Regions from separate parts of the Homo sapiens genome. Here regions 1 and 3 are each linked to region 2. The links come from fine-mapping of genetic effects on gene expression. A gene starts in region 2. Each other region holds a variant in brackets. All regions are shown on one strand. Distances are from middle to middle.

Evidence for each region. PIP is the estimated chance that this variant, and not a neighbour inherited with it, causes the effect.
Region 1: its variant is fine-mapped to the expression of MGAT3 in whole blood (INTERVAL, PIP above 0.99).
Region 3: its variant is fine-mapped to the expression of MGAT3 in testis (GTEx, PIP above 0.99).

What each region holds. Positions count from the first base shown.
Region 1 is chr22:39,379,867-39,389,927 of GRCh38, forward strand. SYNGR1 (synaptogyrin 1) reads left to right here. Exons shown (of 4, transcript NM_004711.5): 4 at 1,830-5,709. The coding sequence ends at 2,048. Among named protein-coding and RNA genes, the nearest start is that of TAB1, 15 kb to the right of the region's middle. RefSeq lists a silencer at 4,918-5,212. The variant C/T (reference allele first, on the strand shown) is at 4,226.
Region 2 is chr22:39,452,075-39,462,135 of GRCh38, forward strand. It overlaps MGAT3 (beta-1,4-mannosyl-glycoprotein 4-beta-N-acetylglucosaminyltransferase), which reads left to right and starts at 4,938. Exons shown (of 2, transcript NM_002409.5): 1 at 4,938-5,483. RefSeq lists a cis regulatory region at 494-1,042, silencers at 4,864-4,923, 5,654-5,923, 5,934-6,063 and an enhancer at 6,384-6,583.
Region 3 is chr22:39,472,084-39,482,144 of GRCh38, forward strand. The region is part of intron 1 of MGAT3 (beta-1,4-mannosyl-glycoprotein 4-beta-N-acetylglucosaminyltransferase); the gene reads left to right. MGAT3-AS1 (MGAT3 antisense RNA 1) reads right to left here and starts at 4,739. Exons shown (of 2, transcript NR_126469.1): 1 at 4,375-4,739; 2 at 3,724-3,856. RefSeq lists a silencer at 1,273-1,630 and enhancers at 1,796-2,725, 6,363-6,864. The variant A/T (reference allele first, on the strand shown) is at 5,382.

The DNA of each region.
Region 1 (10,061 bases), 72 kb before region 2:
CGGGCACTTCCTTTTCTAGGCCTCAATCTTCCCAGCCCTAAAACAGGGGTCTGGAGAGTATCAGCACATTCCCATCACAGGCAGATTCCCCGGGCCGGGAAAGTTTCTGGAGAAGGCTTTTGCAATAAACCTCTAAGCTGCTTTTCTAATGACAAGTTTGATTTACTTAAACTTTGACTTAGCTCAGTGTGGTCAGTGTCATTGTCCTTAATAACAATGTAATTGCTTTTATTGAAAAATAATTTCCTAACCATGCATGTGTGCTGTAGACAAGTCTTTCCCAATCTGAGATCTGTGAAAAAAAAAAAAAAAACGGGGCGGCTTCAGGCTAGGCGCGGTCACATTGAATAGTCAGGGCTCTGCCAAGTCAGATGATCCTGAAACTTGTTTCACTCTATTTAACTCAGTTTCTCACTTAGAATTAGGTTCAGCAGCAGGTGACCGAAATCCCAGATAACAGTGATTTCAACAAAGTCCAAGGCTGTGGAAGTGGTCCAGGGCTGGCATACTGGCTCCAGAGGTCTTCGGTGACCCAGGCATCTTTCCTTTTTTTTAGAGACAGGGTCTCACTCTGTTGCCCAGGCTGGATCATAGCTCACTGCAGCCTCAAACCCATAGGCTCAGGCAATCCTCCCACCTCAGCCTCCTGAGTAGCTGGGACTACAGGCCAGTACCACTATGCCCGGCTAATTTGGTTTTTGTGGATTTTTTTGGTAGAGATGGGGTCTTGCTATGTTGCCCAAGCTGGCCTTTTTTTTTTTTTTTTTTTTTTTTGAGACAGTCTCACTTTGTTGCCCAGGCTAGAGTGCAGTGGCGCTGTCTCAGGGTACTGCAACCTCCGCCTCCTGGGTTCAAGCGATTCTCCTGCTTGCACCTCCCGAGTAGCTGGGATTACAGGTGATGCCACCATGCCCAGCTAATTTTTTTAATTTTCAGTAGAGATGGGGTTTCACCATGTTGGCCAGGCTGGTCTCAAACTCCTGACCTCAAGTAATCTGCCCATCTTGGCCTCTCAAAGTGCTGGGATTGCAAGCATGAGTTGTCGCGCCTGGCCTCTCCTGCTTTCAAGAAGAAGATCAGATTGTTATTGTGCCTGCTGTTTTTCAAGTGCCTTTAACTCAACATAGTCAATATGCCAGAGGTGCATATTTTAGCCCAGGCTGGTCTTGATCTCCTGGCCTCAAGCAATCCTTCCACCTTGGCCTATCAAAGTTGTGGGATTACAGGCATGAGCCGCGGTGCATGGCCCCCAGGCATCTTTCATTCCTACAGACTTGGCTCATGGTCTTTGTGGTCCCTTTTGGCAATTAGAGCTCCAGCCATCACATCTGTGTTCCAGGCATCAGGTCAGAGGGTGGGACAGAGAACATGAGGGTACCCCATTGGCCAAAACGTAGTCACATGGCCATGCCTAGCTGCAAGAGAGACAAAAGAATGACTCTTAGGAGATGCTAACAGTCCTTTGTCCCGCTGAGAAGCTTTTTTTAAGAAGGCTGTTGTGAGCCTTTGAGCCATCTTAACACTCCATAATGGAGATCTAGAACTTTTGGTAGCCCAGACTGACCTCTGGGATTGGGAGACAGGGGCAGGTGATTTCTGGGGTACTTTCTGGCTGGATGATATGGTTCTGGGCATTTCCGGGGGTGGCTGCGAGAACAGCCTTCCTTCTCCACAGCCAAGCTTGGTCTCATGTTTGGTGCTTTGAGGATCTTTAACCCTCTCCTGCCTGTGTCCTGTGAACTAACCACCACTAACCCAGTGCTCTTGTCTGTCTCTCCCCTAACCACCCCCTCCCGCCTGTCCTTGTCCTCGCCGGCCTTTGTCCCCAGGCGGGCCAGGCTGTGCTGGCCTTCCAGCGGTACCAGATTGGCGCCGACTCGGCCCTCTTCTCCCAGGACTACATGGACCCCAGCCAGGACTCCAGCATGCCTTACGCGCCCTACGTGGAGCCCACTGGGCCGGATCCCGCCGGTATGGGCGGCACCTACCAGCAGCCGGCCAACACCTTCGACACCGAGCCCCAGGGCTACCAGTCGCAGGGCTACTGAGCCACAGTGACCGCCTGCCCCCGCCCCTCCCCATCTGTCCCCTCTCTCCACACCCAGCCCCTGCTCCTGCCCAGGCTGCCCTGCCCAGCGCCTCATCAGCCTCTGCCTTGTCCCACTGAGGTCCAGGGTAGCTCGGGGCAGGGGTGGGGCAGTCCAGTGTTGGGGACTGTCTACGTATGTGCAAGTATATCCCAGGGCATGTGCCCCGCAGGGGCCTAGAGGGTGGGGGCCAGGGGTATTTGCATTCATACATTGTGTCATCAAGCATTCCTTGAGCGCCTACTGGGCATCCGGCCTGTGCTGGGCATGGGTGGTGACATTGGCAGAAATGGCCACTGGAAAGGGGAGCGATGAGCTGTGGAGGAAGCCCTGGTGGTACCAGAGGCCAGAATGGTGGGAAAGACAGATCCAGATAATGCTGGGAAGTGTGGCTACACCGTGGCTTGGTCATAGGGTGAGTGTAAACACCCACAGGACACTGGGGGCTGTCACCCTGCTCTGGCAGTCCTGCTAAGAGTGTCAGGGCCGTCTCCATTTTATGGTTGAGGAAACTGAGGTCTAGAGAGGTCAAGATTACTTGCCCAGAATCACTCAGGCAGCTAGTGATAGAGGTGGGGCCAAGCCCAGGCTGCCCGACTGCAGACCACGTGCTCTTCCCTGGCCACCCACCTCCTACCATCCCCACGCTTGGGGCTTCCCTGCTCAGTGTTACTGTCATTCTGGGAGGCCTTGGGGCCCTCAGCCCCTTGAGACACCCTGATTCTGCTGCATGCCAAGGGCCTGTTCTGCCCCAGCTGTTCCTCCTCCCCTGGGGACAGCCCCACCTCCGGGTCCCTCCACCCACATCCCCCTGGTCCTACCCCTGGCCCTTGGCCTCCTCCAAGAGGGCTCACCCCGGGTGCTGCTCTGTGCTCTGCGTGTCCCACAGACGCTTGTTCCAGGGGGCTCCAGCAAACCCCTTCGTGGTCTCTCAAAGGACTGATCACTGTCCTTGCCTCTAGGAGGGGTCACTAAGCCCTTACCTAGGGCTGGGTGGACAACAAGGCACAGATGAGGGTGTGACTGGCCCGAGGTCACGGTGAGTGAGTGGCAAAGCTGGCCCTGACGCCTGGGTTTCTTGGCCCCAGCTGCCCAGCAGGTGCCTCGATTCCCTGCCCTTGTGACCTCCCAGGAAACAGAACTGATCTGGGACACTATGTCACCTCTCCTCTCATCTGGGGTCAGTCAGGGTTCGGGGGCTGCAGCAGCCAAGCGCATGAGAGGTGTTTCCTTGGCCTTCCAGAAGGCCCACTGTGGAGCCAGCCTCCCTATGGGAGGCAGAGCGGCAAGGACAGGGCTTTGGAATCAGCCAGGTCGGCTCCTGGGCTGTGGCCGTGGAGAGACACTGCCCCCAGGATGACACAGGCAAGAGCCCCTGAGGCATGGGAGGCCCAGGGAAGACCATGGGCTGTAGGGGAGAGTGTGGCAGGTGACCCAAAGGCCCAAAGAGGGCCGTGGGGCCTGAGGAGGTCATAATCTCTTCTGAGTGGGGGCAGGTCGATTCTTGCACAAGGTGGGCTCTTCACTGAGCCATAAGGGACAGGGAGGTATGGGAGAGCGCTGGGGGCCCATCCCCCTGTCCACCCAGTGTCCACTGGCCTGTCCTTCAGGGAGCAGAGCAGAGCAGGTGGTGGACGGGCCCAGTGCTGGGTGTTTTCACCACCATCCCCCCATCCCCCATCTAAGAATCCTAAGAGGCAGGCGATCCCTCACCTGCTTACTCACTCAGCAGTTACCCGGCCCCTGTGCTGGAGATACCAAGGGCATGGGTGGTCCCTGCTTCGATGGCCCCAAAGCTGGGCCAGAGTTAAGGGAAAGAGGAGGAAGTCCTAAGCAGAGAAGTAGCACCATTATCCCCATTTAACAGAAGGGAAACTGAGGCTCGGCAAGCATAGGCGAGTTGGCAGTGGAACACGGATCTAAACTCAGGTGTGTCCAAGTCCTCCCAAAGGACAGCAGTGATGGAGAGGACCCCAGCCAGCTGTGTGACAGCTGGTTGTTGCTGACTTCATTTTCCAATCCGGAGAAGGGGCTCTGTCCACAGTCCCCCGCCGCCAGGTGGCCCACATGGGACCAGCATGGGGGCAGGTTATCTGTTGGCCTGAAGAGTGAAACCTGTACCAGGCCAAAGGTGAGGG[C/T]GTGAGTGAGGGCAGGAGTGTTTATGGCAGAGTGAAGTTCTGTGCCCACCACAAGAGGCTGTGAGATGTTCTGACCCTCACCCACTGTCCACCAAAAGCCTCTCCTGCTGATGGGCACTAGGAGACCTCAGGGTACTGCCCATCTGTTTCTCCTCGGGTGCCAGCCAGCTGCTGGTGATCCTCAGCCGGAGGGCAGGGTACCAGGTAAGCTTAACTCCATCTTGGGTGTTTGTGACAGGCCCTGCCTGCCACCCTAGGCAGGGAAAGCTGTCAAGACTCCTGCCAGGAATGGGGGGTGCTGAGTCATCTCACGAAGAATCCCTCACTCTTCCCGGGTTCAGCCCAGAAGCCCTTCCAGGCATGATCTTCCCCATCAGGCTGGGCTCTGGCAGGGACCTGCCCAGGATGGAGATGAGAGAGGGTGAGAGATGGAGGGCGAGATTTGGATGGGACCCAGGGCTCCTGACTCTGCCCTGGAAGGTTCATGGGGAAACTCGCTCCTTCTGTTGGCAGAGGACAGCCCCTGGGGAACCCCAGGCCCAACTCTGTCCGGTATCCCTTTTCCTCCCAGCTGCCCTCCCCTACTTCTCCCTTGCTCCCAAAGCTTTCCTTGGAGAAGGGCCCTCCTGCAGCTGGACCCTGCAGGGTGGCTCCCTCCTCCCCATCAAGCACAAGAGAGGGCCCAGGAAAAAAGGTTTCACATAAGTGTAGAGTCGCAAGGACGCTTAGAGTCGGCAGAGTCTGGGGTAGGGAGACAGCGACTTGTCCAAGGTCAAGCACAGAGGGAGAGGTTCAGGAGTCAGGTCTTCTGCCTTCTGAGTTGGCTCATCCTGGGCAGTCACAGACTGTCCTGCCTGCACGGCTCCTATCCACCTGGGGGTGTCGCAGTTGAGGGGCTAATTCCCAGGGGACTGACGTTAGTTCCCTACTCCATCCTTCCCTGGTGATTCTTGATCTTCAAAGCCTCGGGGATCCCAGGTTTCCCCATGTAACTGAGACACCCTGCCTGTTAGCCCTGGGAGACCCCTAACCTTGGCCCAAGACCCCTTTGATTCTCTAAGGAGCACGAAAGGGGGAATGCCCCTCCCAGGAGTTTATGGGAGAAGGGACTGGGCCGGCTGCCTCCCAGCGATGCACTTGACCTGACACTCCCCATGTCCTGGTGCGCACAGCCCTTGTCGGTGCCCCGGCCCCTCCCGCAGCGTTACTGCCTGTGTATAGTATAAATATATATATTTTCTATATATAAGATGTATAATATAAGGCTCCACAAATATATCTGTGTGTGTGTGTGCGTGTGTGTGCGGTGAAGGGCGGTCCCCATCCTGGGCCCCCACTCTAGACCCCCCCACCACCTGGTTAAGTCTCGAGTGAATCCAGTGGCCCCGTGGCACCCTCCTTTATGACATCCATCCATCTGTGGTGAACCAAGTGAAGGTGGTGACTTCTGGTGACATAGTAATAAAGTGAAGACTCAGAACCCACCAGCGATTGCAAGTGTGTCACCGTGTTTCTTTGTTCTTCATTCTGCGTTTGGCTTGGATGCTCCATCCCGTTTGTCTCCTTAGACAGGCCATGTCTTACTTGGTTATTATTGTTTGTTAATTTTTCATTACACAATGAACCTATGAATATATTATCTTTTTAAAAAGTAAAATTGGCCGACTGCAGTGGCTCATGCCTGTAATCCCAACACTTTGGGAGGCCAAGGTGGGTGGATCACCTGAGGTTAGGAGTTCGAGACCAGCCTGACCGACATGGTGAAAACCTGTCTCTACTAAAAATACAAAAAAAAAAAAAAATTAGCCGGGTGTGGTGGCAGACGCCTGTAATCCCAGCTACTCGGGAGGCTGAGACAGGAGAATCACTTGAACCGGGGAGGCAGAGGTTGCAGTGAGCCAAGATTGTGCCATTGCACTCCAGCCTTGGCATCAAGAGCAAAAATCCATCTAAAAAAAAAAAGGAAAATTATTACAGTTGAAGCCAGAGTCTCTTAGCTTACATGTGCACATGTCCACATACATGCCCCATCACCATTTCCTATCCTGGTTCCTTCCCCAACCACCAGGAGTAAACAAGATTAGATGCTTGGCCTCATTCCTTCCAGACCATTTCCATGCTTTTACATACACATGTTTTACAAGACATGGTTTTTAAATTGACTGGCCTTCAGCTGGGTGCCATGGCTCATGCCTGTAATCCCAGCACTTTGGGAAGTCAAGGTGGAAGGATTGCTTGAGCCCAGGAGTTCAAGACCAGCCTGGTCAACATAGTGAGACCCCGTGTCTAAACAAAACAAAACAAAAAACCTGGGCACAGTGGCTCACACCTATAATCCTAGCACTTTGGGCAGCCTAGGCGGGCGGATCACGAGGTCAAGAGACTGAGACCATCCTGGCCAACATGGTAAAACTCCGTCTCTACTAAAAAGACAAAATTAGCTGGGCGTGGCTGGGCGTGGTGACTCACACCTGTAATCCCAGCACTTTGGGAGGCTGAGGTGGGCAGATCACCTGAGGTCGGGAGTTTGAGAACAGCCTGACCAAAATGGAGAAACCTCGTCTCTACTAAAAATACAAAATTAGCCAGGCGTGGTGGCACGTGCCTGTGATCCCAGCTACTCGGGAGGCTGAGCCAGGAGAATTGCTTGAATCCAGGAGGTGGAGGTTATAGTGAGCCAAGATCATGCCATTGCACTCCAGGCCTGAGCAACAAGAGCAAAACTCCATCTAAAAAAAAAAAAAAAAAAAAAAATTAGCTGGGTGTGGTGGCCAGCACCTCTAGTCCCAGCTACTCTGGAGGCTGAGGCAGGAGAATCGCTTGAACTCGAGAGGCAGAGGTTGCAGTGAGCCAAGATCACGCCACTGCACTCCAGCCTGGCGACGGAGTGAGACTCCGTCTCAAAAAAAAAAAATTAAATATAGTTGCCCCGAGCCGGCAAAAAATTTACCCAGAGCCTGTAAAGTACCAGAAACTTGCTAGGCGCTAGGAGTTCAACACCAAAGGAGGTAGACAGTGCCCTCTTGGAGATGATCACGCAGTGGGGGAAATGCTGTTAACTAAACATGCAAGCAAAAATATCAACTGTGCTAAGTGCTGGAGTGGGTTGGAAAGAATATGCGATGCAATTTAGATCACCCTGACTAAATCAACCACCACCGGTCGAGCAGGTGACCCTCGACTCAAGCGCTCTCCATGAGCAGGGTTTGGACGTGAGCGGGTGGGCTGGTGAGTTATCCAAGCTGGTGAGTTCTGCAGGGAGGACCCAGGACTCAGGGGTCCCCGGCTGGGAAAGAGCTTGGAAGTGGTGGAAGGCAGGTGCAGTGGACGCACAGAAGGGAGAGAGAGGAGAATGAGGAAGGACAGGCCAGAAGGTGCTCATGGATCCCACAGTGTAGGGCCTGGAGGCCTCTGTAAAGCCATGAAGGGTGGGTGACCACAACAGTGCATGCTCTCAAAAGACCACTCTGCTGGTTAGATGGTAGTCAAGAGACAGGTCACCATGACCGTGAGAGAATGGAGAAGTCCAGATGTATTTGAAGAAGGCACAGATCTGCAAATGAACCGAGGCCGGGCACGGTGGCTCACGCCTATAATCTTAACACTTTGGGAGGCCGAGGCAGGAGGATCACTTGAGGTCAGGAATTTGAGACCAGCCTGGCCAACATGGTGAAACCCCGTCTCTACTAAAAAAATACAAAAATTAGGCCGGGTGTGGTGGCTCACGTCTATAATCCCAGCACTTTGGGAGGCCGAGGCAGGCGGATCACCTGAGGTCGGGAGTTCGAGACCAGCCTGACCAACATGGAGAAACCCTGTCTCTACTAAAAATACAAAAATTAGCCGGGCGTGGTGGTGCATGCCTGTAATCCCAGCTACTCAGGAGGCTGAGGCAGGAGAATAGCTTGAACCAGGGAGGTGGAGGTTGTGGTGAGCCAAGATGGCGCCATTGCACTCCAGACTGGGCAACAAGAGCGAAACTCTGTTTCCAAAAAAAAAAAAAAAAAAAAGCAAAAATTAGCCGGGTGTGGTGGTGGGCGCCTGTAGTCCCAGCTACTTGGGAGGCCGAGGCAGAAGAATCGCTTGAACCCAGGAGGAAGAGGTTGCAGTGAGCTGAGATCGCACAACTACACTCCAGCCTGCGACAGAGAGAGACTCTGTCTCAAAAAAAAAAAAAAAAAAAAAAAAATCCCACCAGAAAAGGCTCTGGAGCCCAGGCCGGGTGGGAGGAGCAAGTGGGCGTGGCCTGGGCATGGCCCGTCGGTCAAGGTACTGGCCCTGCCCACGCCCGGGAGAGGGGCGGGCGAGAGAGATGCTAAGCCAATCGGATTGCGGTCATCGGGGGCGAGCGGAGTCTGCAAGAGGTCCGAGGAGTAGCGGGTGCCGAGGGAAGGAGCGCGGCGGGGCGGGTGAGGGATCCCGGGGCTCCGTTCCAGGACACCCAGGTTCTGACCCCGTTTAGGAGTGCGGAGGGCAGGGGCTGCCTGCAACCCAAGGAGCCCGAGCTACCCTGAAGGCCGACCCTGAGGCCGCTGCTCAGCGAGAGGAGCCGACCCTTGGGGGACAGCGGGGTCGGGTTCCAAGCCGGGGCTGCTGGGGCTGGTCAGGCCGCCCGCCCTGCTTGACCCCTCTCACCTGATGGCTCCCTTCTCCAATCTTCAAGAAGGTGAAACGTCACTGTGGTCCGCAGAGGGCAGGCCGCGTGTGCGGAGTCGCTGTCATCCCTTAGTGGCCACGCCCGCCTCCCTGTCCACTTCCCGTCTTCGTCGTTGCGGTTCAGGTGTTCGCTCCACTCTGCGGCACCAAAGGCCCGTCACGTGCTTCCCCTGCCCAGACACCCCAAACACCGAAACTGTCATCCGAAGGCCCCGCACCTGCCGCCTGTCGGATGCTGAAGAACGAATCCCAGGTGGAGAGGACAGCACCCCAAAAGGGATGGGGGATGGATTGGGGCGTCTGAGCCCCGTGGAGTATGTCAGCCTTTCAGAGCGACCCGCTCCACGCTGCGATGTGGTCCTTAAGAAGTTAGGGCCGGGCACGGCGCCTCACGCTGTAATCCCAGCACTTTGGGAGCCAAGGTGGGCGGATCATCTGAGGTCAGGAGTTCGAGACCAACCTGGCCAACATGGTAAAACCCCAACTCTACTAGAAATACAAAAATTAGCTGGGTGTGGTGGCAGGCGCCTGTAATCCCAGCTAGTCGGGAGTCTGAGGCAGGAGAATTGCTTGAACCCGGGAGGCGGAGGTTGCAGTGAGCGGAGATGGAACACCCCTGCACTCCAGCCTGGGTGACAGAGAACGACTCCGTCTCAAAAAAAAAAAAAAAGTTAGGGCCGGTCGTGGTGGCTCACGCCTGTAAGCGAGGCCAAAGCTCCAGAACAGCATCTCTACTAAAAATACAAAAATTATTCGGGCGTGGTGGTGGGTGCCTGTAATCTCAGCTACTCGGGAGTCTGAGGCAGGAGAATCGCCCGTGAACCCAGGAGGGGTAGGTTGCAGTGAGCAGAGAGCATTCCACTGCACTCCAGCCTGGGTGACAGGCTGAGCACTCACTCAGCCTGGAGCGAGACTCCATCTAAAAATAAATTAATAGATAAGTTAGGGCTGGGTGAGGTAGCTCACACCTATAATCCCAGCACTTTGGGAGACTGAAGTGGGTGGATCAATGAGGCCAGAAGTTTGAGGACAACGTCTCTACAAAAAATACAAAAATTAACCAGGCATGGTGGCCTGAACCTGTGGTCCCAGCTACTTGGGAGGCTGAGTGGAGAGGATCTCTTGAGCCCAAGAAGTTGAGGGTGCAGTGAGCCATGATCACCACCACTGCAATCCAGCC
Region 2 (10,061 bases):
CGTCTCAAAAAAAAAAAAAAAAAAAAAAGGCAGAGAAATTGCAAGCATTTCAGAGGGCTGCCAGTGGATGGGACAAGCTCAGCTGAATGGAGTGTATGTGGGGGAGGGTAGAAAGGGGACAGATCTGACTTCACCTGGCCAGTGTTGGGGAAGGAAGTCGCCAACAGAAGAACAATGAGTTTCACAAATTTGGAAAGGAGAGCTTTATTTCTCATAAAGGGTTGCAGCCTGCAGGGCAGCCATTCTGACAGGCTGGGAAGCATAGCTTCCAGCCAGAAGCCAGGAACACATGCTTCAAGGGAGGGGCAAAGGGAACAGGAATTTATACAGAGCAGGGTGGCTGAATATACATATTTAATAAGCTATAGGGGGAGTCATGAATATTGATGTAAGGAGAAACAGGGACCTGTGCAATTAAGCTTCATGCCCCTTAGTGAGTCACACATGCAAAAAAATGGTGGCGTTAGTGTGATCGCAGGGTGTTTTTCAGCCCTCTGATGTCAAAAGGTGAAGCACAGGACCCTACTGTGTGCCAGGCCTCTGTGAATGCGGGAGGGGAAAAGAGTGACAGGGGCTATGTGGGAGGAAGGAATTGGGGGCTGTGTCCCCTTCTGGCCAGCTCTCAGGCAGGCTCCTGGCACCACAGGGCCTGAGCTGGGAGGGTAGAGGGTGGAGGGTGGGGCCTGGTGTGCCTGGCTGTGCCCGGCTGTGCCCAGGGCTGGCTGTGTGCGACTGAGCAAGTCACTTATCTCTGACGAACACCTTCACTGGGCGTCCACTTTAGACTGTCTGGACAATGGTTTCTTATCAGGAAGGGATGATGGTCAGTTATTGTGTCAAAACTGCAAAAGAGGGATAGCATCGGACAGCTGGTTGGTATCAGTGGTGAAGTCTTTCAAAAGGGCTGGTTTCTGGCTAGCCCTAACCGTCAGCAGGCTTTCTTCCCTAAGGAAGGGGTTCAGGAGGGGCTGTATCGAGGAGTGTCTGACCTCCCATTCTGTTGTAGCCAAGCACTCAGCTTTCAAGGTTTCTCTGGGGTTCCCTTGGCCAAGACGGGGGGCTGTTGGGGGGCTTGGGATTTCATTTTAATTTCTCAAAGGACCCTTTATCAAACACCTTCGGTGCTGCCCAGCACCACCTTGTCACACATCCCACCTCCCTCACCCTCCCCACACGCTGTCAGGTGGCCACCTTTATGCCCACTCTGCAGACCAATGGGCCTAGGCTTTGAGTGTGGAGCCCTGGCGCAGCTCGGAGGGCCCCGACCGGAGCCAGCTCACTCTGCCCACTGCACCGCCATGCTCCCTGACCACCTGGAGCCTTGGCAGGGCTGGGGCTTGATGGCTTGGTTCTCTCTTTCTTTCTTTCTTTCTTTTTCTTTTTCTTTTTTGATAGGGTCTCACTCTGTTGCTCAGGCTGGAGTGTAGCGGTGCGGTCCTAGCTCGCTGCAACCTCCACCTCCCGAGTTCAAGGGATTCTTGTGCCTCAGCCTTCCCAGTAGCTGGGACTACAGGCATGTGCTACCACGGCCGGCTAATTTTTGTATTTTTAGTAGAGATGGGGTTTCACCATGTTGGCCAAGCTGGTCTCAAACTCCTGGCCTCAAGTAATCCGCCTACCTTGGCCTCTCAAAGTGCTGGGATTACAGGCGTGAGCCATTGCGCCTGGCCTGTGGCTTGGTTTTCATGGCATGGGTGAGGAGCCTCCCCACCTGGAGACCCAGGGCCAGGAGTGAGATGCCCCAGGGAGGTGGAATGCGGCTCCCACAGGCCAGGCAGCAGCTGCTGAAAGGGTAACAGACCTAGCAATTGTTCCCAGAGCCAAAAAGGCCTGGGTGAAAGGGGACAGCAGGGCTGTAAGGAGACACCGCCTGAGATTGGCTAATCTTGTATCTGGGCTTTTCCCACCTCCAGCTCCCACAGCCTCCTTGTCAGGCAGCTCAGCCCCTAGAGGAGCAGTGGGGCAAGAGGGCCACCAACCACCCTCCCCCATATCACCATGGAGCTTGGAGCCCCAGCCTCCCCCACGTCATCGTGGGGCCTGGAGGACGGCTGGGAGAGGATGGAGAGAACCAGATTCCATTGATGTCAATGCGATGTCAGGGCAGTGATTCGTCCCATTCTGCAGATGAAGATACTGAGGCTTAGGGATTGAAATGACTGGAACACTTGGCGAGCTGGCATAGAACCCAGGTCTTAAGCTCCCTGGGATTCAGCTTCTCCACCTGCTGAGCACCTCCGTGCCTACTGTGTGCCAGGCCTCTGTGAATGTGGGAGGGGAAAAGAGTGACAGGGGCCATGTGGGAGGAAGGAATTGGGGGATGTTTACCCTTCTGGCCAGCTCTCTGGGAGGGAGGCTTCTGGCACCACAGGGCCTGAGCTGGGAGGGTGGAGGGTGGGGCCTGGTGTGCCCAGCTGTGGCTGTGTGACCGAGCAAGTTACTTATCTCTGACAGGCTGGGCGTGGGGAAGATGTACTTGCCACACAGCGCCCAACACACTGAGTGCCGCATTGAGGACATGGAGGCGGACTTTGGTATGAACCCAACAAGGCTGACTCCACTTCGGCCTCCCAAGAAGCTTGGGAATCTGGAAAGGTCAGGAGAACAAAGACCCAAGCTGGGGGAAGATGGAGAGCAAGCAAGTCCCCTGACCCTGGCCAGCTCTGGGCAGGGCAGCTTCCCTGGGGAGTGGGGCGTGTCTTTACTTCTCACTGGGCCTCAAGGGCAGGGGCTGGGGCTTGGGCAGGTCCTCCTCCCCTTTGCCAGGAGCAATGGAAATGGAGGAATGTGATTATTTTGTGCCTGCCTTCGTGCTTGGGGGCCAATGTCAAGGTTTTCTTGATGCTCAGAACGAGTTCAATGGAGAATCCAGACTTGAAACAGCACTTCTTTCATGGGCTGAGGGACGCCCAGAGTTGCTGCTGAAGGCTCAGGGAGGGAGAGAAGGTTCTGGGGAAGGAAAGTGTCTGTGAGGCGGTCCCTTCCAGAGGGGAATGAGTCCCAGGCAGGGAGAGCTGTGGCATGGGGAATTGGGGGAGGGGGACACATTTGAGCAGAAATTGAAGGTTCTTTGGGGGCCGGAGAAGAAGGGGCAGAGAGGGTTGAACAGCCAGGCTGGGGAGAGGAGGAGGGCAACATTTTTGCAGGGCAGAATAGACTGGATTTTGGGGGAGTGACAATTACCTTAAGCACATGTCATGGAGATGATTTATTTTTTTTTTGAGATGGAGTCTTGCTCTGTTGCCCAGGCTGGAGTGTAGTGGCATGATCTCGGCTCACTGCAACCTCCGCCTCCTGGGTTCAAGCAATTCTCCTGCCTCAGCCTCCCGAGTAGCTGGGATTACAGGCGTGTGCCACCACACCCGGCTAATTTTTGTATTTTTAGTAGAGATGGGGTTTCATCATGTTGTCAGGCTGGTCTTGAACTCCTGACCTTCTGATCCACCTGCCTCAACCTCCCAAAGTGCTGGGATTACAGGCATGAGCCACCATGCCCGGCCCATGGAGATGTTATAATGGAATGTGCTTAGAGTGATAGGAACTAGGAATGGATCTTACACTTTCAAATGGTTGGGAAAACATCAAAAAATGTTTCTGGACACGTGAAAATGACACGAAATTCAAATTTTTGTGTCCATAAAGTTTTATTGGAACACCGCCAGGCTCATTCTTTTACGTATTGTCTATGGTTGATTTTATGCTACGATGGCAGAGTTGAGTAGTTGGGACAGAGACCATATGGCTGGCAAAGCCTAAAAGATTTACAATCAATCTCTTAAAGCAAATGGTTTGCCCACCCTTGCTTAGAGAGAGCCTCCAGGAAGAAAAGAGCAGTGAGGGTGACGTTGAAGAAGGGGGCAAGACTAGGTCACCAGGGGCTCCCTGTGCCCCGCCCAGGCACTGAACTTAAGCTGAGGGCAAGTGGGAGCCATTGAAGGTGCAGGCAGGAGAGTGACCTGCTCAAGTGAATGTTGGAGTAGGATCACTCTGCCTCCTCAGCAAGGATGGATGAAGCTGGGCACGGAGGCACCTGGAGCAGGTAGACCAGCCCTAGGCAGCCCGGATGGTTCAGCAAAGGCCTCTGGGACTATTCTGGAGCACATTCGCTGGGATATAGAATAGGTAGCGCATCCCTGCACCTTCGACGATGGCGGCGCAGAGATGTCTGCTGCGTACCCACAATGCCTTGTGCCTCGCACCGCGGGAGGAAGTGGCTGCTCTGTAGGCCCCAGAACGGAACCACTTGAAAGGCGGGAAACACGTGGGGGACGCCTCTGAGCCCTGAGAGGAATGGCCTAGAGCAAGGCCACGAGGAGCCAGGGCACGACACGGTGGGCCCTCGGAGAACCGCTGGTGGGCAAGTGGCAGGAGAGTAGGCTCAAGAGGGTTGGCAGGGCCGACCGGGCCTAGGGTGGCCGGGTGAGGGGGGCGGGGGAGGGGAGGCCCCCCCAGTTACCCCAGGAGTGCGCAGGTGGCTTCGGGCATGTGAGGGACGGAGGGGGTCGGACGGAAGGACACAGGCCGGTGTACAGCGGTCACCCACGCCCCAAGCAGACACACAGACTCTGCAGACACCGTAACAGGCCCGGCACCGTGCACACATCACAGGCCCAGGCCTCTGCACATGGTCACAGATGCCTATGCGAAATCCCGGCCCAGGTTCACGCGGGCACAGGCGCATCCACGCACACACCGCAACACGGATCTGCACGTCCATGCACACACAGGCACAGACTCGGGCACACGGAGTCACACCGACCCGGGCACGCTGCGGAACGCACCCGTCCACGCATACACAGAACGGGACTTGCTGCCCCGCACGCACACCAGGCCCGCACTCCGAACTACCCGCATTCCCCGCACACGCCCCCGCGCAGGCCGCCCCGGGCCGTGGGCCGGCGCACGCACGGTCACAGGAGGGGCGCGCGCACACTCGCACTCACACACACTCGCTCGCACACGCACACACTCGATCCAGCACGCGCGGGCGGCGCGGGGCGGCGGCGGCCGGAGTCTGCGGTGCGAGGCGCCCCCGGCCCGGCGCGGCGGCGGAGCCCGGCTGGCGGGGGAGGGGAGGGGGTTGCGGAGGGGGCGGGGTGGGGGCCGGAGCCGCTTGAGCCGGCGGGAGCGGGCACCCCTGCGCGCCGCGCTCGGCCTCGCCTCCGCGCCCCCCGCGCGCCCGCCGCGGTCCCTCCCCCGCGCCCGTCCGCTCGCCGGGCCCCCGCCGCCGCCCCGGGGTGCAGCCGAGCGGCCGCGCCGGGTCCCCGGGACGGGGTGGAAGTGGGGGTGGGGGGAGGGGATCGGGGCCGGGCCGGGGCCGCGCTGCCTGCGATGCCGGGCGCCCGCCGCAGCCGCTGCCGCCGGAGCCCGGGATGGGGCGAGAGGCTGCGGCGGACGCCAGCATCTCCCCGCCGGGGACCCCGGGGGCCGCGGAGCCGCCGCCGCCGCTGCTGCCGCCGTTGCTGAGACCCAGCGGGCGATGGGTGAGTTGACCCCGGCGTCCTGGGGGGCGCCGCGGCCCCTCTATCCCCGCGCTGCCCGCCCTCCCGCGCTGCGCTTGGCGCCCCCCGCCCGGCTCCGCGGCCCACTCCCCGAGCGTGACCTTAGGGGGCGGGCGCGGGCGCACTGGGGCTGGGGGCCCGGAGGCCGCGGTGGGGGCGGGATGCCGGGGAAGCCGCTCGGCGCGGGCCCCCTCCCCCTACCCGCCGCTCCTCCGAGCTCCCCGGTCCCCGGAGGGCAGAGCCTCAGCGCCCGACCCCCTCCCACGGCCGGGCGGGGGACGTCCCCGAGGCGCGGGGCTCGAGCCGTGCTTTGTGCGCGGCACCCCCCAGCCTCCGGCGCGGCTCCCCCACAACCTCCGGCGCGGCGCGGGGCTGGGGTGGGAGGCCTCCGCGCCCGCCTTCCCCACCCCCGACCCCAGACTGCGGCGGCGGCAGCCGAGGCCCAAGCGCAGTCGGGGGCTGGGCGGGTGCGGGGGCTGCGGCCGTAGCTACCCCTGGGGACCAGGCAGAGGCAAATGTGGAGAGGGCCCCCGGCCATTTACCGGGGTGGGGGCCCCCGGCTCCTTGCATTGCTCTGCCCAGGGCGGGGGAGGGAACCTGGCTGAGGGAGGGCGCTATAAATATCTGCAAATAGTGAGTTCTGGAACCGGGAGTGGGGAGGGGAGTGCGCCTGGGTGTGTGTATGGTGGGGTTCCTGAGCTGGGGTGCAGCAGGAAGGGATGCCGCGCGGCCAGACCTAGTGGTCTGAGGTCGGATGACCCCCAGCCCCGGAAGATGCCCCTGAAGGCCCCTGATGGGGTGTGGGCAGACACACTACCCCAGTGGGATTCCTCCCTGGTTCCCCACTTCATTCCTGGGACACACCAGTCCAGATTCGCCTTGATGGGGGAGTTGTGAGCACTGGCGTGTCGTTTGGGGAGGGGGAGCAGTTATGAAAGATCCAGACATGGAGCCCAGCAGAAGGATGGAGGGGAGAGCCCCCACCCCCAGGAGCTGCAGCTCTGAGGGGGTTTTCAGTCTAAGGAGTGCTAAGGGGAGCCGCTCTGGGTCCTAGGAAGGTTTGAAAGAGGGGTCCCAGCCCAGGAGGAAGAGAGAGGTTACTGGAAGAGATGACGACAGGAAGCTGCCAGAGATCTCTGGGTAGAGAAAGGTGGGAAGGGCGTTGTGGGCCAAGGGAATGGCATGAGCAAAGGCTCAGAGGTGTGAGTGTCTGGCGTGTGTTGAGAGGTGGCAGTGGGAACAGTCAGGCACTGTGGGTGCCCCCTGGAAGAAGTGAGATGAAAACGGGGCAGAGGCTGGGCAGGGAGGCCAGGTGGAGGTGAGGTGGGAGGGCACAGCAGGGAGCTGGCACTTGGTCCTGAGGACGGCAGGGAGCCAAGACCTGGCTGGGGGGATGCCGCTGGCTCAGACCCATTCTAAGGGTCTGCCTGGTGCCCTTGGTGTGGTCAGGGCTACTTGAGGCACACTGGTGATTCCTTTTTCTTTTCTTTTCTTTTCTTTTTTTTTTTTTTTTTTTGAGATGGAGCCTCACTCTGTCGCCCAGGCTGGAGTGCAGTGGTGCCATCCTGGCTCACTGCAACCTCTACCTCCTGGGTTCAAGCAATTGTCCCACCTCGGCCTCCCGAGTAGCTGGGACCACAGGTGCCCGACACCACACCCGGCTAATTTTTGTATTTTTAGTAGAGATGGGGTTTCACCAGGTTGGCCAGGCTGGTCTCGAACTCCTGACCTCAAGTGATCCACCCACCTTGGCCTCCTAAAGTGCTGGGATTACAGGCGTGAGCCACCTCGCCCAACCCTGATGATTTCTTTTTCTGTAGTAACTGGACCACCTCAGGAAGTCAGCTTTCTGAGCCTCGGTTTCCACATCTGTGAAATGGGGAGGTTTTGTTTTTGTTTTTGTTTTGAGACAGGGTCTCACTCTGTGATCCAAGCTGGAGTGCAGTGGTGTGATCATAGGTCACAGCAGCCCCAACCTCCTGGGCTCAAGGGATCCTTCTGCCCCAACCTCCTGGGTAGCTAGGACTACAGGCGTGAGCCAACACACCCTGCTAATTTTTTAAAAAGTTTTTAATAGAGATGAGGTTTTGCTATGTTGGCCAGGCTGGTCTTGAACTCCTGGGCTCAAGTGATCCTCCTGCCTCTATGTCCCAAAGTGCTCGGATTCCAGGTGTGATCAAATGGGGGAGAATTTTGAATGGAATGAGTTGCAGAGAGGGTTGAATGAGAGGATGCACACAGGGTGCCTGGCACCTGAGCAGCACTCAAGAGATCGCTGGCTGCGGTATTATTACCTGGAAAACGAGGATGCCGATGCCAGCTGGCGGGCCAGGCCAGCTTCACTGGGCAGCGGCCATGAGAATCACGAGAGGGCTGGGCTGGACGTGAACGGCAGAGAGCTGAGGGTGGGGGAACTGCGTGGTCCTCATGCAATTCTGGGAAGACTACATAAGCAGTGAGGAGTGGCCAGAGGCAGGGTGGTCTGCAAAGACAGCCCCTCTTGGCCTCATGGGCACCCACCCGCCCAGCCAAGTCATTCAGGGTATCCTGCTGTGCTCCCCAAGAGCCAGAGCCCCTTTGCTCCCCAGAGTGCAGTGATGCAGCCCCTCATCTTAGCCATCTCCAAGCCCTTCATGTGGGGACCAGGTCTTGGAACACAGTGTCCTCAGGTAGGGGTAATAATTTACTGTGCTGGACAGAGAGGACATAGGCCTTGCCCTGAGGAGATTAGAATCCATTGGGGAGCAGATACCCCTGGCACCGATGCTCCACCTAGCCCTGTGCTGGCTGCTTGGGGGCAAGGAAAGAGTCACTAAAAGTAGGGATTCCAGATCTAGTGGCCCGGTTCAAATCCCGGCCCTGCCTCTCTCACTGTGTGACTGTGGGCTGGTGACTCTGCATCTCTGTGCCTCAGTTTTCTTGTGTCTAAAATGGCGCTGAGGCGAGGCGTGGTGGCCCATGCCTGTAATCCCAACAGTTTGGGAGGCCGAGGTGGGTGGATCACCTGAGGTCAGGAGTTCAAGACCAGCCTGGCCAACATGGTGAAACCCCATCTGTACTAAAAATACAAAAATTAGCTGGGCATGGTGGCAGGCACCTATAATTCCAGCTACTTGGGAGGCTGAGGCGAGAGAATCGCTTGAACCTGGAGGCAGAGGCTACAGTGAGTTGAGATTGCGCCACTGCACTCCAGCCTGGGCAACAGAGTGAGACTCCATCTCAAAAATAAATAGATAAATAAATAAAATGGGGGTGGGGTGCACTGTTACTATTTGAACAGCTTGGCATAGTTTCCAGTGGCCATTTACTGCTCCCTTCCAGAACGAGTCTCCCGATTCACCCCTGCCTCCTTGGAGACTACACCACCTGCCCTTCGAGATGTGTTGTTTACGTGTCCCTGATGTCTTCCTTTTCTGACTGAGTCCCCCTGCCCAGGGACCTGCCTTTCCAGATCCATTGCTCCAACCGGGGGCAATAGTAGGCTGGCAACTGGCTCTCTGGGAAACAAACCCCTGATGAGTTGGCCGATCGCTGTGCTGTAAATCCTCCCCATATGGCTGATTTTAAGCCACCCATGGCCTAACAAGAGTGTCATAATGGGAGCTGGTACGTGCCAGCTTTAGTCCCCAGGCATTCAGCGGGTGCTTAATAGATGATGGTTGAATGAGGAGGAAAGGATGCAGAGAGTGTTGGTCAGCTAGATTTGGGAGCTGCGGGCGATACTGTAGGTGAGAAGGGCTTTCAGGGGGAGGCATGGGAGGGCTGGAGGTGAGGGGCCACCCTGCACCAGCCCTGGGGTGAGGCTTGAGGGAACGGAGAGCTTCTGGTGTCCTCCCCGTCCTGAGACCCTTTGCACCCCTGACCCTGACGCACACTTGCACTAACCCCTCCTTCGAGGGGCTCCTCTCCACCTTGGCCTGGCCTTGGGGTTCTGCACAGAATGGGCCCCAAGCTTAAGCCAATGAGAGCTCAGAGATGTGGCCCAAGCAGGTCCCAAACCTCATGTTCCATTCCCTTGCTGTGCTGTTCCCTCGACTTGAATTCCTCTTCCATTCACTGTCCCCTGTAACTCTGTTGTCCATCAAAAGCTTCCTCATGACCCCCTTCCTCTGTGACACCAGCCCCACAACCCAAGTCAGACAGACCCATCTCCCCTTCTGCTCTTCCCCCGATGCTACAGCCCCTCCCATGTACACGTTCCTGCCTATAAAAATATCAATAGCCAGCATGTGTTGTGTTCCTATGGCAGCCAGTGACAGAGGTTCCAGGATAGTCCCCTCTACAGATGGGGAAATTGAGGTGCAGTCTCTTGTTCACACTGACCCACTCTTTTTTTTTTTTCTTTTGAGAAGAGTCTCACTCTGTCACCAGGCTGGAGTGCAGTGGCATGATCTCGGCTCACTGCAACCTCTGACTCCCTGGTTCAAGTGATTCTCCTCCCTCAGCCTCCCGAGCAGCTGGGAGTATAGGCACGTGCCACCATGCCCAGCTAATTTTTGTATTTTTAGTAGAGATGGGGTTTCACCATGTGGGCCAGATGTTCTCAAGCTCCTGACCTTG
Region 3 (10,061 bases), 20 kb after region 2:
ACCCTCAAGAGGGGTGTTCTGCACACTGAGGAATGAATGCCTTGCTAAGGGTGGACCCTTGGGCTTGGAGCCAGCAGTACAATAGCTGTCTGGCCGTCTCCTGTGGGCAGAATCCAGCCTCTGCCCCCACTCCCAGAGAGACCCAACTCCCTCCAAAAGGCTATGGACTCCTGAGCCCCCTTGCAGGAGAGGCAGTGTGGGTTCAGGCTCCCTGACCCCCGCCCTGTCCCTGCCCGGTACTTTGTCAGAGACTCGGGGTCCCGCCGTGCCGAGAGTGTATTTCTGAGCTCTTCCATGCATATAGTGTTCCTTGGTTCCCTATCCTCGTCCCACTGAGAATGTCCAGTAGCCCCTCTGGGAGTCGGGGTGCAGTTCTCGGGAACCCTCCCACACAGAGAGGGAGCAAGGCGAGGCTCACAAGAGATGGACCTGCTTTTTACTGAGCGCTTGGCCCTGACAGGCTCTCCACCTGTAAAACCACAGTGTCCCTACCTCCTCAAGCACCTGGCACCTAGGAGTGGCTCTGGGAGGGTGGGGCTGCCCCTCACTGCTGCCTGGTTACCTGTTTCACAAAGGAGGAGACTGAGGCTGGAGAGGTGAGGTGACCTAGCTGGAAAGAGGTGGAGCCAGGAAACCAGCCCAGATGGAGGGCAGGGCCAGCATCTGGCGGGACAAGGTTAGTTCCTCCTGCAGTCATCTAACTGACACCTGGGCTCAGCCTCTAGGGAGGAAACTGCTGCCATAGAGCCTTGAAAGCCAGGCAGAGGGGACTAGACACTGTGCCTCAAGGCAGGTATGGGCCGGTGAGGGAAGGAGGCGGCAATGGCTGGGAGGGGCCCAGGCAGGGGTCGGGCAGCTGCAATGCGGGCTGGAGTCTTGGGGAGTGTGGGCCACAGGGAAGGGTTGGATGCATGTCACTCACAGGGAGGGCCAGGGCTTGTCAGTTTGACTCACTGAACTTCGGTTTTCTCCTCTGTGAAATAGCAGTGGGAGGCGGATGTCCACACGAGATTAGAGAACAGCTAAGATACTGAGCACAGCCCCGTCAGAGGGCGGCTCTCGGGGAGGCCTCAGATGTGCTGTCCTCTCATTCCCCTCCTTAGTCCTGTGTGTGCTGCTACCACAGAATACCTGAGACTGGGTGGTCTGTAAACAGCAGAACTTTCTCACGGATCTGGAGGCTGGGAAGTCCAGGGTCGAGGAGCTAGCATATGGCGAGGGCCCTCATGCTGCGTCATCCCATGGCAGAAGGGCAGAAGTATCCACACATGGAGACGGGCAGGGCTGACCGCATGCAGTTATCAGGAACACGATAACTAACCCACTTTGAGCCCATGCTGTTATCAGGAACAATAACTAACCCACTCCTACAATAGCAGCATAAATTCCTCCATGAGGGTGGAGCCCTCACGGCCTAATCACCTCTTAAAGTCCACACCTCAACACCACTGCACTGGGGATTAAATTTCCTACATGTGAACGTTGGGGGACACATTTTTCAGACTATAGCACCCCCTACATGATTACAGGCTGGCAAGGGGAAGCTGTGGACACAGGGGCTTGGGGATCCCTGGGCCTGTGGCCAGGCCAGGCTAGCTGGAGGCCAGGATCAGGCAGACAGCAGCAAACAAACTCCCCAAGGAGGTGGTGCAGGTGGCATGGGACCCCTCGCTTGCTTGTCTCCAAGTTCCGGGTGATCGGGGCTAGGGGAAAATAATGGGGGTGGGGGGATGGAAGTTAAGGGGAGGAGGGGGGATGGATGAGGAGGGCAGCCTGGATGGAGGTGTGTGGGCAGGGGGCAGATGGATGTGGAGTGCCAGCTCCAGGGTAGATCAGGGCAAGGTTCTGCAGTGTGGGTCAGGATCCAGGGCCTCCGGAGCCTCCTGGAGTCTGGGCCTCACCTTGGAGTTTTCCTGACTTTTTGGACCTTGAGCCTCCTTTAAGCTGCAGGAGACCCAGACACGGCGCACTGTCCAGGGTGACCCGTTCCTGTTGGAGTTGGGTAGTGGTGGGAAGGGCTGCCCTGGGTACCCTTGGCCTTGCAGGGAACTCTGGGCTCTGGGAAACATAATTTCAGCCTGGCCTTGCAGTGTGCCACCGGGGTGCTCACATGGTTTCAGGCTGGTGAGGGGCTTAGGAGGTTGGCAGGATGGGCAGATGCAGCTTTCCTGGGCAGCGAATCCGATCATCTACCAGAGCTGGAGAGCCCTGTGACCTGAAAATGGCAGGCCCATGGGGTCCTGATGGCAGTGGGGGTGAGAGGGACCCTTGCCTTGGGCAAGGCTGAAGGCAGCAGCCTGGACTTTGCCCCTGAAACTCTGAGAAGCCCCAAGGCCGCAGGTGGGTGTGGACTCTGCTGCTGTCACTTGCCAGCTGCGAGTTTGAGGCCCTGTGTGCCTGTGGGGGTGGAATGAAGCGAGGCCAGTAGTGCTACAGTCTTCACATCACCCCCAACCCTCTCACAGCCCCAAGCACCTTCCCTGCACACTGGCCCAGCCCTCACGGGCTCCCACTGCCTCCTGGCTCTGCACACAGCAGGTCTGTGGTCATGTGTGGCCCTGCAGAGGGGACCCTTTTCCTCTCCCTGAGAGATAAAGAGCCCTGTGCCTGAAATGCCACCAGCAGTACTCATTCCTCTGGCTAATCCCAAACATTCACTGAATATTTGCTCTGGGTGCTTCGGGCAGGAGCCACTGCTCACTTCTGGCCTGGCCTGTTCCCCCAGGCCAAGTTTACATCTCTCCATTCCAGGCTTTGTGTGTAAGAGGCAGTCAGAGCCCTCGGGCCCTCCTGAAATGTGCATATGCACCACTAGCCCCGGCTGGGACATCCGCCCTCTGCTCCCTGATAAGGTCCCTCTCTGCCTGGACTGGGGACTGAGGATCCGAGATGGAAAAGCCCCAGCCCAGCGCCCCTGCCTTCCTGGAGTCAGAGAGGCCTGGGTTCTGCTTGTGGTGCGGCCTTCACCAATCACCCCCTCCTCAGGGCCTCCATCTCCCTGCTGGTGTGGAGTGAGGGATGAATTCACAGCAGGGCTTGCCAGGCTTTTTTTTTTTTTTTTTTTTTTAACTGTAGAAGCTTTCCTTCCAACAAAATCTTGCGAGGAGCTCAGTGTCTGAAATTGAAAAGCTGGGAGCATCTTCTTGATTGTGTTTTTTGGGGGCGAGTCCCTGGGCTTTGTTTTCTCTCCCCCTTCACTCCACCTCTCTCTCAGGTCCTGGGGCACCTGGAGGGGAGTTCCAGGGACCTGGCTGGGAAAGAGCTGTCCTCAGTGCCCATGGGACCAGTCCATGGGATGTGTCTGTACATCTGTGTATCGGGCCCTGAGGCCCACCTTTAGCCCACCTCCCCTCCCGAGGTCTCCTTCTGCCAATCACCTGCCTAATGCCCCTGCACCCTGGTGTCAGGCAGCCCCCCAGAGCTGCATCCCTCCCTCCTGTAGTTAACCAATGCTCTATGAGCCTCTCTCAGCCAAGACCTTGGCATCAGCTCACCACTGCCCCGCCCCTGGCCCTCCCCTTCATCACGGGCCGTCTCTCAGGCTTGGCGCCCTGGGATGCTCCCTTGCTCCAGCTCTGTGACTGTCCCCATGAGGGTCCTCCCTCAGTGCAGCCCCATCTCTCCAGCGGTGCTGGCACGATGGACCCGGTTGACTCCCTGCCTCCTGCCCTCTCCGTTCAGTCTAAACTGCACAGTCTAACGTAGGAACCACTAGAGCATGCAGCTATTAAAATTCAAATTAAATTAAGCTGGGTATGGTGGTGTGAGACTTGTCCCAACTACTCACGAGGCTGAGATGGGAGGATTGCTTGAGTCCAGGAATTCACATACAGCCTGGGTAACATAGGTCTCGTCTCTAAAAAACAAAAACAAAAACATTATGGAATGAGCCTCTGGGGATGAGGAGCTGATGTCCTGAATGGACCAGTGACCAGTGCAGGAGGGGTGGAGTCCTAGCAGGGGTAGATCCCAGCTTTGGGAACCAACTTTCCCAGGCACTTGCCGGCCACTCCGTGGGAAAGTCCTCAGGCAGCCTGCAGGGAGCTGGGATCAGCTGATGGGGATGGGTTTGGAGGGGAGAGAGTGGTGCACAGGGACTGGAGGTGGGGGAGGGGTGGGGTTGCCATGGAAAGGGCTCTTGGGATGGGTCTTGGGCTGAGCCTTTGGCAAGGCCTCCACCCTGGAGCTGAGCCAGCAGAGAGTGGGGCTGACTCCATGAGGCCCAGACTCTCGTGGGTATTCTGGTGGCCTGGGCACCCTGTCTTTCCTGAACCCTGCCTGCCTAATCTAAGAACTGCTCCCCTTGTAGCTCTGTCTCTCCTCTGTTGGCCTAGTTTCTTCATCCATGGGTGGGCACAGCAGAAGCTGTCTCACCTGCTCCATGGTGAACGGGATTTGCAAGGATTTGACTCTGGCCATCCAGGGAAGATGGAGTCTTTGACCAGGCCTGGCCCCTGAAGCAGACTTCTTCCTTCTGAGCCTGCTGGGGAAGCAGAATTCCTCGATGCTGGGTGTCATGGTCTACCAGGCCCTCCCTCGCCCAGGCCACTTGTGTTGAGCCTGGAGCAGAACCCCCAGATCTGTAGTCCGCCTGTCAGCTTGGGGAGTCTCCGTTTCCGTCTGTTTCATTCCCATCAGCTGTGTGTGGCTGAGCAAGTCACTTAACCTCTTGAGGCCTCCATGTCCTCATCTGCAAAATGGAGACACACATATCTGCGTCCCCGATGACCACCAGTAGCTGGGATGATACGTCGACTGCAGAGTGACCACTTTGTGTAGGCGTCCCTGTGGATGGTTGTCAGTCAAAGGAGTGAGTCAGATGATGAGAGGGGAGGACAGCAGAGCAGCAGTTGTTTCTTCAGTCTCGCCGGGACTCCAGGATCGGCCATGTTCTGCAGCCACCGCCTCTACCTGTCTCCCCATGTGGGATCCTGAAACCTCAAGCTGCATTTAGTTTCAGAGTCCGGGGAGGTGCTCACTGTCTTCTGACTCCTGAGATGCCGACTCCCTCTGCCATACCCCAGGGAAGGAACCAGTAGCAGAAGCTCCAGGGAAACTGATGAAGGTCAACAGAAGGAAGAACTTCTAGCAGCCCAAAGGGATTGGAATGGGCGGCCCGTGGGAGTGGACATGCAGAGGCACTGGCCTGGGGTGAAGCCTTGGACCAAATTCTTACTTGCAGGCCCTCTGGACCCAGGAGAGGAGTCTGCAGGCCTCGGCTGGGCCGGATTCCGCAGATTCTGGCCTAGGTCCTGAATGCCTGGTGAGTTACTGAGAAAGGCCCTACAGGCTGAGGGTGCCAGTCAGGGTGAAGCAGCCCCGCAATTGGCCCACCTCCTTTTGTACCTTAACAAAGGTGTCTTTGTTACCTTTCTTAAAGG[A/T]AATAAAGCCGGTCAGGAGCAAGGCCTGGCATATTCAGGGGGTCATCTGTATTTGGTCGTCCAGCGGGAAACCCAAATGGAAGGAAAGAAAAAAAAAAAAAACCATGCATTTATAGAACCTCTGCCAATGGCCAGGCTCCATGCAGAATGCTTTGACACCGTGGCTCAGCCAGGTCTCCCACAGGACTGCAAAACAGAGGGTGACATCTTTCTTTTAGATCGGAGAAGACTGAGGACCAGAGAAGCTAAGTAACTTGCCAAAGGGCACACAGCAAGTAAGTCATGGCACTGGGATTCAAACCAAATCCTCCAGACTTCCAGTAACAGTGGAGCCGGCGTGTCCTGAGCATCTGTTGTGTGCTTAGGCATGGTCCCTAGCTTTTTGCGGGGATTAACTCACTCAACTCTCACAACAACCCTGTGAGACAGAAACGGTTATACCTCCGTATCGTGGAGGGGGAAACTGAGGCACGGGGAGGCAGAGTGACTTGCCAAGGCCACAAGCAGTGTTCGGATCTGGCCATTGTGGCCACTGGCCTACCTTGTGCCCCAGGAGCTGCTGTACATGGCAGGGATTGCTGCAAAGATGTGCCTCCTGCCTTCTTTTTGGAGGTGGCAGAGCCCTTAGGTCACATGGGGCAGGACCAGGCCGGGTGGAAGGTGAGCACAGGGAGACGGGCTTCAGCGCGAAGCCCTTTCGTACAGTTGAACTAACTCCTGGAGAGGTAGTGCGGGTCCACCCCAAGGTGTACCAGGGCTGGGGGCAGTGGATGGGCTACTTCCTGCCCAGAAGTAGAGACTGAGGTTGTTTCTGGCATCCTCCAAAATGCCCCTCATGGACATTACAGGGATGCCCTGAGTGCCCACTGGGTGTTGGGCCTGCTTTACTGCTGGACATGTGACAGCTGGCCCCTTCTCCCAGTTGGAGGAGTGCCCAGTGGCTGTCCCCCAGCTGAAGACGCCAGACATCAGGTGTTGAGGGGCAGGCGGAGAAGGGGCCAGAGGGTGGTGGACAGGGGAACCGGCTGTTAAGACATGAGCCGTCTGAACCACGGAGGTGGGTGGCAGGGGCCAGGGTGAGGCCAGCCAAGGGCACCCTGGGGACTGAGCTAGGACTCTGGCCAGCACGGGCAAGCTCAGGACCACGGAGAGCTCCACAGGAGCCGCCCTTCACCAAGCGACAGCTGTCAGTGTGAGTCTGCACCTGGGAGGCTGCTACCTGCCTGGCCAGCTCCCACCATCACAGCCAGTGGCCTCCAGAGAGCACCTCCCTTCTCCCTGGCCAGAAGCCCCTGGCTGGGCTCCACCTGAGTCCTGACTATGAGGTCATGGCTGGGTCATGGAGTTTGGGCTCATCAGCTTCCCTCCCTCACAGCCCGTCAGGCTTCCAAGCAGAGCTAGAGAAAAATGGCACAAGAAGTGGGAAGAGGGAGGGAAAGAAGGAAATCTGTCCAGCTCAGACCCTCCAGGCCATGGCCACTGCCTGAGGCCTGCCTGCTGCCATCCTGGGTCAGCCTCAGCCTCCCTCTTCCAGGATCACCTGGCTGCCAGGAAGCACCTGGCCCATGCTCTACCACCTATCCCAACAGACCCAGGACCGGCCAGAGGCGGTGGCCCACGCTTGCAATCCCAACACTGGGGGGCCGAGGTATCACTTGAGCCCAGGAGGTCGAGACCAGCTTGGCAATGTAGGGAGACCTCCTCTCTACAAAAAAATGTTTAAAAAATCAGCCGAGTGGTGGCACACACCTGTAGTCCCAGCTACTTAGGAGGCTGAGGTGGGAGGATCACTTGAACCCAGGAGTTTGTGGCTGCAGTGAACCTTGACCACCCCACTGTACTCCAGCCTGCCTGGGTAACAAAGAAAGACAAAACCCTGTCTAAAAAAATTTAAAAAGTCACAGGCCCCTGGGGCTGGGCACAACTTACGGGGTGTCTGGCAGCGGGGTGGGGGTGGAGCCTCAAGCCCCCCTTTTCTTGGAGTCTCAGGAGGCGTGGCTTCCCAGCCCCTGGCCCCTCCCCACAGCAGGTTTAGGTTTTGCTCCCTGTTGCCCTGAGATAGGACAGCACCCACCTAGGCTTAGGCCCTGCCAGGGACTCACCTCCAAGCCTCTGCTTCTGGTGTGTCCCCACCCAAAGGCTCACTCTTTCTCTTCTCTGCCAGGCTGGGGAATAATAATAGAAGAGCTAGCACTTATCATTGAGTGCTTACTGTGTGCTAGGCATCTCATCGATGGGAAAACAGAGGTACAGAAAAGTGCTTAACCTGCACAAGGCCACACAGATAGGAGTGGCAGAGCTGGGATTTGAACTGGGGAGTCCGAGCACATGGAAGTGATGGTGAGGGCATTGTGGAGGCCCAGGGCAGTGCGGGGTGATCTCATTGAGCACCTGCTGTGTACATTCCCTGCTCTAGGGAGCTTATATGCCAGCTGGGAAGACAGACATCTAGGGGAAAATGAGCCTAGTGTTGACTGGGGCTGGGGCCGTGCATAGTTCTCTCTGATTCTTACTTGAAATAAGCAGGGCAGAGATAATGATACCCATTTTATACATGGAGGAGTTGAGGCTGAGAGAGGTCAGGTGACCTGCTCTGTTCATAGTGACTATAGGAACATTGATGATGATGAGGAGCTGGGGGAGGTTGGGAGAGTTCGGGATGGGCTCTGGCTTGGGGCAGAGGCAGGTGCTTTGGCTCCAGGGAGGCTATCTTGGCACAGAGCAGGCATCTGAGAAATACTAGGTGAATTTTAACGAACTGAGTAAGAGCCAGAGTATGGCATTTGTGCTAACAGAGATTAGCCTTGGTGGTGGGAAGGAGCTGGAGAGGGGTTTTGTCCTCAGAGAGCTGCCTGCCTGGGTCACAGAGGGCGCCCAGCCCAGGGAAGGCCCTAAGCCCTCGCTCAGTTAACCTTATTCCCCAGGTAGGTCCTAACCACAGTGACCCTCCTGGCTTCCTGAGCTGCTGGAGGACCTCAAGCCACGTACATCCAGGGAAGTAGGTGGGAGTGGGACAGTGGGCTGGACGATGTCCCCCACAGTGCTTTGAGGCCACAGGGGGACCACAGACAAAGCATATCCCACCCCGCCCATCCCTCAGGTGAAGCTTCTAGACAGCATGCTGCAGAGAGGACCTGAGGTTTGGATCTAGAGACAAAGGTTAGCCCAGGACCTGCTGCTAGCCAGTGTTTGACCTTGGCCATGTCCTTCACGCCCAGCCTCACTGTTGGTGTCTGCAGGAGGAGAAGTAGTGGTTAGGGCTAGGCCCTGCAGAGACAGATGCTGGCTGCAAGCCCCAGGTCTGCCAGATAGGGCCAGCCTCCTCCACCCCAGTCAAGGGCTGGTCCATTCTTCCAGTGCCTGGGGCCACCCAGTGTGCTGCCTTGCTCACATCCAGCTCTTCAGCAAATCCAGCAGAATCTGAGCACACTCTACACCCTACAACCTGGTGGAAGCCACCCTGACTCACCTGGGCAGTTCAGTGTGGCCTCCTGGCTTCCCCTGCCCTGCCCTTGAAGTGCCCATTCATTCTCAGCAGAGCAGCCAAAGTGAGCCATTCACACCAAGGTCAGGCCATGGCCTCCCTTCTCTGAATCCTCCAGTGAAAGCCACACTTCGAACCATGCCTCCAGGCCCTGTGATCTGGGTTTGTTCCCTGCCCCCCATGTCCCCTCACTTGCTCCGTCCCACCCGCCTTGCTGTTCTTCACTGGCGCACATACACTCCTGCCAGGGCACTGGTTGTGCCTTCTGCCTGGAACATTCTTCCCTGGCGCCCTCTCCTGCGTGGAGTCTGCTCACGTCGCCTCCTCGGTGAGCCTGCCCTGCCCACTCCATTCATCACTGGACATAATGACGCACTCGCTCCTGCCCGTTACCCGCTTTGTCTTTCTCCAGAGCACAGCCTCTTTGGGCGCGCAGTTTTCTGAGCTGACTAGTGTGTTTGTAGTTTACGCAGGCTCCCTACCCTGTTGGGTGCTGAGCAGGTTCCCTGAGGGCAGGGATTTTGGTCCGTCCTGTCTCCCCATGTTCCCAGTACCCACCGAGGTGCCTGGCACACGGGGCTCTGGCAAAATCGTTGCTGAGTGAATGAGTGACGTGGGTTGGGTGAGCACCCTGTGGCATGTTGTATGGATCAAATGCCCCAGGGCTGCACCATCCACTGGGTTGTCTTCACTGGTCACAGGTGGACTCCTCAGGGGCTCTGTCACTCTACTTGGGTTGAACTTGGCAGCTGGAAGGGGCTCAGGACAGCTTTACCACTGGATACAACCCCGTGATTGACCCTATAGGATCCAGTATGATCCTTCTATTGTGCAATGCTGTGCAAGCGACATCATCTCCCTGGCCTCGGTTTCCTTATACAAGGGTACCTGCTTCGTGTTGGGAGGATTCAGTACAGTCACGTGTGTAACAAGCTTAGGACAGTGTCTGGCATGTCAGCCTCAGTGATAGTTTTACTGTTACACCTGATGGTTTGTCAATGCTTTGTTATTTTTGCTTTTGAGATAAGAGTCTCACTCCCCTGCCCAGGCTGGAGTGCAGAATTGCGATCTCTCAGCTCACTGCAGCCTTGACCTGCAGGGCTCAAGCAGTCTTCCCACCTCAGCTTCCCAAGTAGCTAGAACTACAGGCACATAGTAGTTCTGCATGCCTGGCACTGCTAGAAAGTAGGCACTGC